Regions from separate parts of the Homo sapiens genome. Here region 1 is linked to region 2. Evidence: fine-mapped expression QTL. Tissue or cell type: whole blood. Region 2 holds a variant in brackets; the other region holds the start of a gene. All regions are shown on one strand. Distances are from middle to middle.

Evidence for each region. PIP is the estimated chance that this variant, and not a neighbour inherited with it, causes the effect.
Region 1: AP3B2 starts here. The variant in region 2 is fine-mapped to the expression of AP3B2 in whole blood (TOPMed, PIP above 0.99).

Annotation. Positions count from the first base shown.
Region 1 is chr15:82,707,550-82,713,378 of GRCh38, reverse strand. AP3B2 (adaptor related protein complex 3 subunit beta 2) reads left to right here and starts at 3,504. Exons shown (of 27, transcript NM_001278512.2): 1 at 3,504-3,785. The coding sequence starts at 3,673. It also overlaps the pseudogene LOC338963. RefSeq lists silencers at 3,451-3,500, 3,721-3,980.
Region 2 is chr15:82,569,481-82,575,309 of GRCh38, reverse strand. CPEB1 (cytoplasmic polyadenylation element binding protein 1) reads left to right here. Exons shown (of 13, transcript NM_001365242.1): 4 at 3,778-3,966. Among named protein-coding and RNA genes, the nearest start is that of RPS17, 32 kb to the right of the region's middle. The variant C/T (reference allele first, on the strand shown) is at 3,271.

The sequences.
Region 1 (5,829 bases), 140 kb before region 2:
CAGACTGGGATGAGTTGGTCACCTGGGTCTTCCATAGCTCCCAGTCTGAGAAAATGAGACTCACCCAGTAATAAGCAGAAGATTTGGCTGGGTGAGGTGGCTCATGCCTGTAATCCCAGCACTTTGGGAGGCCGAGACAGGCAGATCACAAGGTCAGGAGTTTGAGACCAGCCTGGCCAAGATGGTGAAACCCCATCTCTACTAAAGATATAAAAATTAGCCGGGCGTGGTGGTGGGTGCCTGTAGTCCCAGCTACTCGGGAGGCTGAGGCAGGAAAATCACTTGAACCCGGGAAGCGGAGGTTGCAGTGAGCCGAGATCGTGCCACTGCACTCCAGCCTGAAGACAGAGCAAGGCTCCATCTTAAAAAAAAAAATGCAGAAGATACTATGGAATGGGCCAGGAGAAAAAGGAAGGATCAGGGATGGGAGAGACACAGTGAGCCACACAGTAGCTGGCATTCTGCATGGTGGGCCTGGGCAGCCTGGCTCTTCATTTGCATATGGGTCTTTCCCACCCCAGTCAAATCTGCTGGAGCCAATTCTGCTTCCTTCCAACAAAGATGCCCAGACACCTGGCGGTAGTGTGTTACTTCCTGCTCCCAGCTCCTCTAACACCCCTGGAGAGCTCCATGCCCACAGGTCTTACCTTCACCCACTTTCCCAGGCTCTTAGATCAAACATCAGGCACAGTGCAGGCAATGGGGCCATCCTCCCAAGTCCCAAAAGCCTTCTGTTTCCAGTAGAGATGGGAGAAGCCTGAACTAAGCAGGTTTCTCACTTCCTTATGGAGGAAGAAGAGCTAAGAGAGGTGACTGATTTTAGTACAAAGGGCACAGGGCACAGAAACATGCAGGAATACATTAGCTGCGTGCACTCCAGTGATACATAGCCTCTGTAAACCTGTTTCCTTATCCTGAAAATGGGGACATTGTTCCTATCTTGTGATTGTATTAAGGATCAAATGAGCAGCTGCTCAACAGAGGTTTCTGGAGAGGTCCTTCTCCACACAGACTTGGGAGGAGATGCTTGTCCTAGGTCCAAATCTCATCCAGGTTTCCCGATTTTTTCAGGTCTTCTGCTCAACTCAGGTACCAGCTGACACCCACCCAGTCCCTGGTGTTGCCTTCAGGAGCAGTGGCAAGATGGGAGCTGGTTGGGGAAGGGGATCCTAGCGCAGGGGGGAGGAGGAGAGAATGGAATGGCTGGACTTTGAGATGAGAAGACAGTTGGATGGGGAGGAGGCACCATTTGCTGGAACTGAAGGGTTCTCAGTAGGGGCTCGAGGCAGGATGTATCTGTGATATCTGGACCTCTGGAGTCCCTTAAGCACAAGGAGGCAAGTGTGTGGCAGTGAAGACATTCTGCCTTGGGCCCAAGCCCAAGACAGGTCTCCCTGAGCCCTGGGCAGACCATCCGACCTATGGTCATTGGAAGGACCCACCTCCTCCCTATCCCAGGCCTGTGTAAACGCCAGGAAGGCAGGTCCCTTTCTCCATGCAGGCCCTGACTGGGGCAGTCAGCACCATTAAGTTCTTCCTCTCTGAGGCTTTCCTGGGTCAACACTTCGAGGCTGTGTAGTTGGAGGGCAGGGAGCCTGAGCCAGGAGACGTCTTCCTGTTCAGGCTGATTCCCCCCACCTGACGCTGGTGCGGGGCCCACGTTGGCATATACTGTGGCCATGGAGAGATCATCCACTTTGAGGGTGAGTGCCTCCAGCAGAAACACAGGCCCAAGTCTGCGGAGAGGCTGCCCAGCCAAGCCACGCCCCACCAGTGAGCTGGCTACTCGGGGATAAAGACTGAAGTCCCAGGCTGGGGGTACGTTTCTCTGAAAATGGGGTTTGGGCACTCAGGGTCCCTGAGGTCTCAGGAAATGGGGGTGCGGGATCACAGGGCATAGGACCTAAGCCTGGCTCTGATCCGCACCCCTCTGGCGATCCCCGCAGGCAAGAACTCAGGAGGCTGTGGGCTCCTGGGAAGTTTCTGGGCTCCTGGAAAGGCATCGTATCCAAACAGGGGCAGCGCCCGCTGCTGCGCTCCTGCTGGCGCGTGCTGCGCAGAGTGAGCGAAGCGACGGACGCGGACCCACCATCCTATCACTCCATGCGCAGCAACTGTGTGCACTTTGCACTGTGTCTGCTCGTCCCAGGTCCCAGCCTGGACCCCCGGCAAATAGACGGGAGCTCCAGCAGGTCGGTGAGCGTGGCCCAGCTACCTGCACAGGACCCATCCCACCTCCTGAGCAGACTAGCCAAAGCGCCTTATAAACGCGCAACTGCAAAATCCAGGCCCTTCTCTTCCCACTCCCCACCCAGGCCAGTTTTCTCCAAATTCAAGATCCACTTTTCTCTGGCAGGCACAAAGCCACCGGAACCAAGCGGACCCACCCACTTGTCTAGGTTATCCCAACAGAACCTTCTCATTACCCCAATAGAACCTTACCCCAGTAGAATTACCCCCAATAGAACTTTTCTACTGAGCCAAGCTCCACCTTTCTGGGCCCCACTCCTTCCCAGGTAGGCCCGCCAATTCTGCCCATGGAGACTTCGGGATGCTAGTTACAGACCAAGACTCAGGCCTTAGGAACTCCTCCAGTCCCCATGCCCAGCTAAAAGACTCCAGCCACCTCAACTGATGCCCAACTGGATCCTACCTCTTCCCCCAGCCCAATTCACTACTTTCCATCGGATCCAAGCCTTCCTTCCTTGGGCCTAGGGGTCACTCGGGCTCGGGAGCTGAACTGGAGGGCTCACATGACTCAGGAGCCCTGGTGGTCACACCAGACCCTTCTCTTCCTTTTCAGGTGTCAATGGACGTGGACGTGTCCCCGGATTAAGCATGACCTTGGCCCTCCTGGGTGGACGTGGAGGCTTCAGAAAGATTCATTAAACTACTTTCCAAAGCTTAATTAGATGTTCACCGTCCTCTGTATCCTGTTTCCCATCTCTCTAAGCCCCCAAGGGCTCCTCGGAGCTCCCTGACCTTAATTCCTTAAATTCCGCCACCTCCAGGAAGCTCCTCGGCTTCCTGCTGCCAAGCCAGATTTTGTAGGAAAGGTGGGGCGGGAAAGGGAGCGTCCTTAGGTATCTGAGGCCGGTCCTCGGGTGCGGTGACCCCTTCCCGCTCTAGAACCCCCAGCCTGCGGGCACAGCCTTCTTTCCAGTTCCCGCTTTCCCTCCACGGCGTGGGTGAGCATCCGCGCGTGCGTCTGGGGAGAGCGGAGCCCCAGAGGCCCGTCCCGCCGAGGCCAGGTGGTCGGGGGTGGGGGCAGCTATTCCACATCCCCTGCAAGACGGTCCCAGCGTCCGTCCAGCAGACTCGCCCACCTTTAGATCTGGAGACGAGCCAAGTCGCTTTAAAGGGCAGAAGACGCCCTGAAGAGGGCATTTCCTAGGGATGGGCGGGGCCAGGCCCTGACGCACCGCCCCTGTCGCCTCCTCGCGGACACGCCCTCCGCTCGGCTGGCGCCGGTGCCTTTAAGACCTCAGCGCGCGGCCCTGATTGAGAAATCCGCGCGCAGCCTCCGCCGCTGCACACTGCAGCCTCTGCTGAACCCCTGCCGCGCCGCCGCCTTCGCCAGCCCGGACCGGACCGGCCCGCCTTCCCTTCCTCCGCTCCAGCCGGCCTCCGGCCCCGCAACCTCCTCCTCGGCGAAGTCTCCCTGGCCGCCCCATGTCGGCCGCCCCCGCCTACAGCGAAGACAAGGGCGGCTCCGCTGGCCCCGGGGAGCCCGAGTACGGCCACGACCCCGCGAGCGGCGGCATCTTCTCCTCCGACTACAAGCGGTGAGGGAGCCCGCCAGGAAGCTCGCGGGAGGGTTGGGGCCGGGGACCGGGCGAGGCGCGCGGGCACCATGGACAGCGCCCGGCCCCAGCGCCGGCCCCGCCCCGGCCGCGCCGACCGGAAGCCCGCCCGGCCCCCTCCTGCGGCCTGGAGCCCCGGCCCAGCGCGGGCAGCGCTGGCACCCCGGCTCCAGGGGCCGGCCTAGGACGCGGAGGGGGGCAGATAGGGGCTGGCGGGGGATGGGCCAGCTCAGTTTCGAGAGGAGAAACCCTCCGGTTCCAGGTGTTTCTCCGGTTTGCGGCGTTGCGTTAGGGGTTCCCTTCCTTTTTCGTGCTAGGCGGGTTGGCTTCCCAAAAATGTGGGGGAGGGGTCTGAGTCAGCGAACTTGAGCTTGAGCCTGGGGCCTCTTCAGGAAGGCGGGCCCTGGATGTACTTGCACAGCCTCCCAGCTTGGCCCTGCTGCAAATTCATTTCCCCTCCCTCTGGTCCCCATCTCCATCTGACCCTCACATCCCTGCTCCTGGCATTGCCCCTGTAGTTCAGCTCCACCTTCACACCCTCCCCCACCTTTGATTCGTTCGTTTGTTTCTTCATTTGTTTATTCGTAAATTCTGCAACAAGCATTTATGAAAAGCCAACTGTGTCGAGTCCTGAACTAGTCACGGAATACAACTGTGAACATGAGACCCTTCTTGTCCTCACGATGCTCTAGAGGGGAGCACAGATGAAGAAGCAGTCAGGGACAGTCGAGTGTAATGGGGGCAGTGGGAGCAGGGAGAGGACCTAGTCTCTGGCGCCGGAGAGAAGGAAGACAGGAGCGTGAGGTATGTTCCAGGCAGAGGAAAGGGCTTTCAGGAAGGTTGAGAGCCAGGCCACAATCTGTGTGAGCCACTGGACTGACCAGAAAAGAGGGTGGGGAGGACTCCTGAAGGATTCTAAGCAGGCGACATAATCAGATTTATATTTTAGAAGGACGTCAGGCTGCTGCATTGTGGAGAAGAGATTGGAGGTGGGCCAGATTGAACAAGAGACAAGGGAGGTGGGTCTTGAAGTTCACAGGCCTGGCATGATTGTGGCCTAGACCAGGGGAGAGGCAGAAGATTTGAGGCTGTGGAAGAGGTGGAAGCCTCAGACCTGATGATTAATTGGATATTGGGTGGGGGTTTAGAGGGACAGGGGGAGAAGATGAGGATTTTCACGCACGTCCATGTGAAGAGACCACCAAACAGGCTTTGAACAATAAAGCTTTTTAATCACTTGGGTGCAGGCCAGCTGAGTCCGAAAAAAGAGTCAGCGAAGGGAAATGGGGTGGGACCGTTTTACAGGATTTGGGTAGGTAGTGGAAAATTACAGTCAAAGGGGGTTGTTCTCTGGCGGTGGGGGGACACAAGGTGCTCAGTGGGGGAGCTTTTGAGCCAGGATGAGCCAGGAGAAGGAATTTCACAAGATAATGTCATCAGTTAAGGCAGGCACAGGCCATTTTCACTCTTCAGTTACTTCAGGCCATCTGGATGTATACGTGCAGGTCACAGGGGATATCATGGCTTAGCTTGGGCTCAGAGGCCTGACATTCCTGTCTTCTTTTATTAATAAGAAAAATAACATAAAATAGTGTTGAAGTGTTGGGGCAGCAAACATTTTGGCGGGGGGTGGTATGGAGAGATACTGCTTCTCCATAGCCTTGAAGGGCTGCTTCGAGCGGGATTGGGGTGGCGTGGGAACCTAGAGTGGGAGAGATTAAGCTGAAGGCAGATTCTGTGGTAAGGGATGATATTGTGGGGTTGTTAGAAGAAACATTTGTTGTATAGGATTATTGGTGATGGCCTGGATACGGTTTTGTATGAATTGAAAAACTAAATGGAATAAGAGAAGGAGAAAAACAGGTATTAAAGGACTAAGAATTGGGAGGACCCAGGACATCCAATTAGAGAGTGCCCAAGGAGGTTCAGCATAGCCCTGCCAGCAAAGATTATTTATTTACTTTAAGAGGGAGTTAAGACTGGCAGTTTGGGGATAGCACCAGGAGATATCAGCTGTAATGGTTTG
Region 2 (5,829 bases):
AATTAATGTTTGTATATAGGTCAGAGTTTATTCCCTCCTCCCCATATGGTGTTCCAGTGCCATTTGTTAAAAAGTTTTTCCCCAATGAATTGCTTTAAGTCTGGTATATTGGGATTACACAGATGTGCAGATGGCCCCAGACTTAGGTTGGTTCAACTTTGGTTTTTGACATGATGATGGTGTGAAAATGATACGCATTCAGTTGAAATTGTACTTTGAGTATCCATACGACCTTTCTGTTTTTATTTTCATTACAGTATTCAATAAATTACATGAGGTGTTCATCACTTTATTATAAAACAAGTTTTGTGTTAAATTATTTTGCCCTACTGTAGGCTAGTGTCAGTTTTCTGAGCACAGTTAAGGTATGCTAGGCTAAGCTATAATGTGCAGTAAATTAGATGTATTTAAATGCATTTTCCGTTTATAATATTTTCAACTTACAATGGGTTTATCAGACCATAACCCCACTGTAGTTGAGGAACATCTGTATATTAATTTTGTGGGTATCACTTTTTAGCGCTGTTGAGTCTTCCAGTACATGAACATGGTTTATGATTTTTTTTTTTTTTTTTTTTTTTTTTTTTGAGACCGAGTCTAGCTCTGTTGCCCAGGCTGGAGTGCAGTGGCACGATCTTGGCTCACTGCAACCTCTCCCCTTCCTGGGCTCAAGCAATTCTCCTGCCTCAGCCTCCTAAGTAGCTGGGACTGCAGGCGTGTGCCACTGTGCCTGGCTAATGTTTTTTGTATTTTTAGTAGAGACAGGTTTTCACCACGTTGGCCAGACTGGTCTTGAGCTCCTGACCTCAAGCGATCTGCCTGCCTCAGCCTCCCAAAGTGCTGGGATTACAGACTTGAGCCACTGCACCTGGCCTCAAATATTTTCTTTAATCCTCACAAAACACCTAAAAGATGGCTACTGTTGCATCTTTAAAGAAGAAAAGATTCTCAGAAAGACACAGTGGCAGACCTGGTGAGCAGAGCAAGGTCTGTCAGTCATCTAAAGCTGTTGATTTTTCCAGCCTGCCACACTAATGGTTTTAACAGGTATGGCCTGCATTGAGTTGGAGCTAGTGAAGAAATCCTACAATGGTAGTGAAAATCTTTATCTAGAAGAAACAACAGATTGAGGAATGTCTGGATAAGGAGGAAGGTGAGGTCTGTGGTGGGGGTTGTAGGGGTGAGGGTAGAATTATACTGTGTGTAGAACTCCAAGCTCCTGGATGCATGTAGCCATTTGGTCTTAAATGGGTTTAACAGACCTGTTGCTCAGGCCTGGGGTCTTTCAGCTTGGGGTGGGAAGATTGTGTTAGTTGTACACATCAGTACTGTTCAAACTTTTGAGATGGGAACTACTTTGTCGCCCAGGCTGGAGTACAGTGGTGCAGTCATGGCTTTCACTGCTGCCTTGAACTCCTGGGCTCAAGCAATCTTCCCAAAGTTCTGGGATTATAGGCATGAGCCACCACACCCGACTGCTCAAACTTTTTTTGCATACATATATATTAACTGGGGATCTTGTTAAAATGCAGATCTCAATTCTGTCGGTCTTGGGTGGGGCCTGAGACTCAGTATTTATAACAAGCTCCTGGTGATGCTCATATTGCTGGTCTGCCACACTGTATTTTGAGTAGCAAGAGCATAGTTGATTCTCTCCTCGTGAGGGATGGGGGTAATCATATGCACAGTCACCCTGATTTTAATGGGTAGAAAATGGCTGCTTCTAGACATAGATGCCCTCAGATTGGGGTATGGGGATTATATAGATATTTGGTGTAGGGGAGAATAGATACTTAAATATGGATGTTTTTGAAGGAAGCATTGTGTTTTGGTAACTAATATGTATGGGTGAAGTCTAAAGTATATCCTTAGCTTGAGGGAAGGGTGAACATAGAGAAGCAGGAGGGGAGTAGTCAGGGGTAGGGGCAGCACCAGTATGGGTGATTTTTGCTAGGCCTTTGCCATGATGAACAAGGCTTTGACAAACACAGATAGGGAGCAAGCAGAATATCTACAGCCAGGAGGAATAACGTGGATGGATGACACAGCAGCAAAGCTTTAAAAAAAAAAAAAAATCTCCAAAGGAAGGAGACTGATAATTTTCCCTTCTAGGCTATGCCTGAGTGCCTGTGGACACAGGGTGTACTGCAGGAAGTTCTGAACAGCTATTTCTGTGGCAGCATTATTCTCTCGACCCTGCCATGGGAGGTCCCAGGTGGGCATGCTTCCCGTATCTGCTTGCTTCTCCTTGCAACAGGGGAGAACAAGCAGGTGGAGTGCTACCAGCTGAGTCCAGGTTTGAGCAGCCTGCCTGGTGAGTCTGGGCCTGTTGCCCTACCCTCCTTTATGAGGAAGAAGCCCAGTGACCCTGGGCTCATGTTGGAAAAGGACCGATGTGGGAGGAGATGGCAAAGAGGAAATGGCGGAAGCTCCAGAAGCTGAATTTTCTTAGTCTTTGTTGCTGGAGCTGTGAGTGGCCACAGAAATAAGCATTGGTCTTGTGCAGCACCTCTGAGAGAGGGCCTGGATGTTAGAGGCATCAGTGGCCCTCACGGCTGCCCTGTATCATGCTCAGGGCTCCTGGAAGGGCAAGAGAAGCAATATTGACAGAGCTAGGTGATTAGGTTTCAGAGTTTGGTGTTTCTAATAGGGCGTAACGATACTTCAGAGACTGTTTCTCTTGGTTTGTCAGATGCTGCTTCGAGAGTGTTTCCTCAGTCTGTGCCTACAGTTGCAGGAGGGAGGGGAGGAGCTGAGCCGCTGTATCTGTTCATGACTAATACCCATCTTGTTGGGATGAGGGAACCTGGGCACAGGGATTATCCTAGTCAGGGCAGGTCTCACTCTGGCATGTGGGTTGTGGGCCATGTCCTTTGAGGTGTACCTGGAACAGCCCAGTGACTCTCCCCCACTCTGCCAACGCTTACCCCCTTTCTCTGTGATAAGCTGCTCTAGACAAGCCTGGAACACCAGGTGTTGTTCCCCAGGGTCCAAGTGTACAGTATTTTTCTGAAGGTTATCTTGTTCCTCAGTGGTAAACACTGCTGTGTCAGGGTGCTGCTCAGGGGCCACTTGGAGCACAGATTTTTGCTAGCAGGACTGTGAAGCTTTGCATTGGGCTGCAAAGCCAGGGCTTGAGCCAGCAGCTGGAGAGAGTCCAGGACTAGAGTGTTTTTGGGTTTGGGGGTGGAGAGCAGGGGGAGGGAAAGGGAGGGGCAGGAGGGCAGAGCCACACGAGCAGGCAGTCGGCTGCTTTGGCTCTGCTGTCGG[C/T]GGAGAGGACTTCAGTCGTGCGTGAGGGCTGCTTGGCCACCATTGCTGGAGACCGGAGGGCGCTGCCTTGCAACCCAGACTTAACGGCACTGCACCGGGACTATTCCAAGTAGCTGTTGTGCTGTCTTTCCCTGGGAGGCAAGTCTCCTCCCTGTCGTCCCCTCCTGCTCCTCCCCCGTTCTGTGAGGGATGATGCCGCTCTCTATTGCACGGCTCAGCCGGCTGATGTCACTGGCAGCGGGAAGCATCAGCAGCCTGATCACATGCTGGCCCAGTCTGTAATGCAGACGGGATAGGGGTGTGTGTGTGAGGGGAGGGGGCCTGTATGGCAACTGCTCTTGCCCCAGCGTCCCCAAAAGTGCAGAGGCAGCGGCTGCAGCATCCAGCCAGCTTGGATGTCTGGCCTGTGAGCCTGGGGAAACTATTATTAATAATATTTACTGTTGATAATATTGGGGAAAACAGCCCTTAACTCTGAGGTTTCTGCTGTGCTCCTTTCCAAAACAGACTTCCAGGACTCTGAAGAAACAGTTACAAGCAGGATGCTTTTCCCAACCTCTGCGCAAGAATCTTCCCGTGGCCTCCCAGATGCAAATGACTTGTGCCTTGGCCTGCAGTCCCTCAGTCTGACAGGCTGGGACCGACCCTGGAGCACCCAGGACTCAGATTCCTCAGCCCAGAGCAGCACACACTCGGGTGAGTGCCAGAGAATGAGTTGGCTGGGGTAAGGGGATGCATGGGGGTGGTGAACGAAGATATCCACAGCAACAGTTGTTCTGTTCCCCTTTGCATCACTCCCCACCATACACACATACAACATGGAGCTGTTTTGCAAGAGATGGAAATGCAAGCTGTGAGTGTGGCAGGACAGATGGCTCCACGTAAAGGCAGGCATGGCTCTTCCACTTACCCTGATAAATTCCCTGGAGTTGTTAGTCTGCACCTGGAGTGGCCCTGAGGAGGGTCCCCAAGGCGTGGTGGCCTTGTGCAGAAAAGATCCAGCTAACCCCCTGGTGCCCAGGCCTGTCTTGGAGATGATGAAGCAAAACACTTTTAGGTGGGGGAGGGGAGTTAAGGGGTTGATTACTGGATGACCAGAATTACTCAGTGGTTTTAAAAACCAGGGAGTTATATGAAGAGTGAGTGGTCTCTGAATCATGGCAAGGGAAGGATTTTAACCTCAGATGAGGCTGGATAATGCACTGAGATATTTGGAATTGACTTAACATAGGGTTCAGAGCATTGATCCTGGAAAGGGGTAGGCAGGGTGAGTGGGGTGGGGTAACTCCCAGCTATAGAATCTTTTTTTTTTTTCCCTTTGTGTTGAGAGTGACCAGCTGGATAAAAGAAGAGCCACTCCCCTTTAGGATCCCTTGTCTTCTTGGTAGGGTTCAGTGGGGACAAACTAAAGGGACTTCTTGGCAGCCCCCCCTTAAATTGCTTCTGCTTATACCTTCTGTTACCTGTTTATTTCCCTCTTGTGGTACAAGGAGGAGGGTTGCCTAAATACAAGTCTTGGAGTATTCAGGAAGAAATGTGAACTTAAACACTACAGGTATACTTACAAGCTACATATTTTGCTTTATGTAAATTATAATAAAGAGGTATTGGCAGCAGATACTCTAGGAAAATGAAAAGGTGGTAAGGGGCGGGGGGGAGGGGGTGGTACAGCCATTCGCTGTTGGTACTGACAGTGGGAAACACCAAGTCTGCTGTCCTTCCCTTCCCTCCCTGGTCCAGGAACCGGCAGCCATGGCAGCAAGGTACTGTCTTGTTGATTTCTGTGGCCTCCACCCTGTTTGGCGCAGGTCTTTTTTTAGAATGCTTTGCAGAGCCTGGGCCCGTTGTGTCTGTTAGGCATTTTAATGCCCAGTTGTTTTGGTAAAACCCCATTTAGGAGAGGGGTATTGAAATTGTTTTATGTGGATGTGGATGGGGAGAGCTTTACCTTAAGTAACTATCTCTGGGTTAAGATAGGGTTTCTTGAAGTACTGGCCTTCTGCTGACTCAGGTTTTTCCAGAAAGGTCAGCAACTACCCTGTTCCCCTGGGCAAGGAAGTATGGTATCACTGTTTGGTATTCTATGCCTGGAGACCACGGTACTTTGTTTTGTGTGTTCTTGACGCCAACCTTGGGGGCCTATGAAGCCAGCCTCCCCTGTCCTCACTTCCACCGTATCTGAGCAAAAGATAGAAGAACTCACACAGGAGATGGGCACCTGTCTGTGGGTGATCAGTGTTTGACCAAGGCACTGTCTTTCATTGGCATCAGGTTGAAGTATAGCCCTTCTTTGGCTCTCATTCTCTAAGCTACAATGCTCTTTCTGAAATACATTATAACATTGGGCCCATAGAAATGCAGGTGTGCCCCACTGGGGGCTTGGAGAGCTTGGTCTGAAAGTTACTATGAAATTGAGCTATTAAAAGTAGCTTGGATCTAGTCATAATATCCACAGCTTCTCCACCACCTGAAAGGCCTGTGCTTGTAGCTGTTTGTCTCTGAAATAGAAATGGTTTTTCTTTTCCACTTTCCATCCCAAGCACTTTAGTGATAAATATT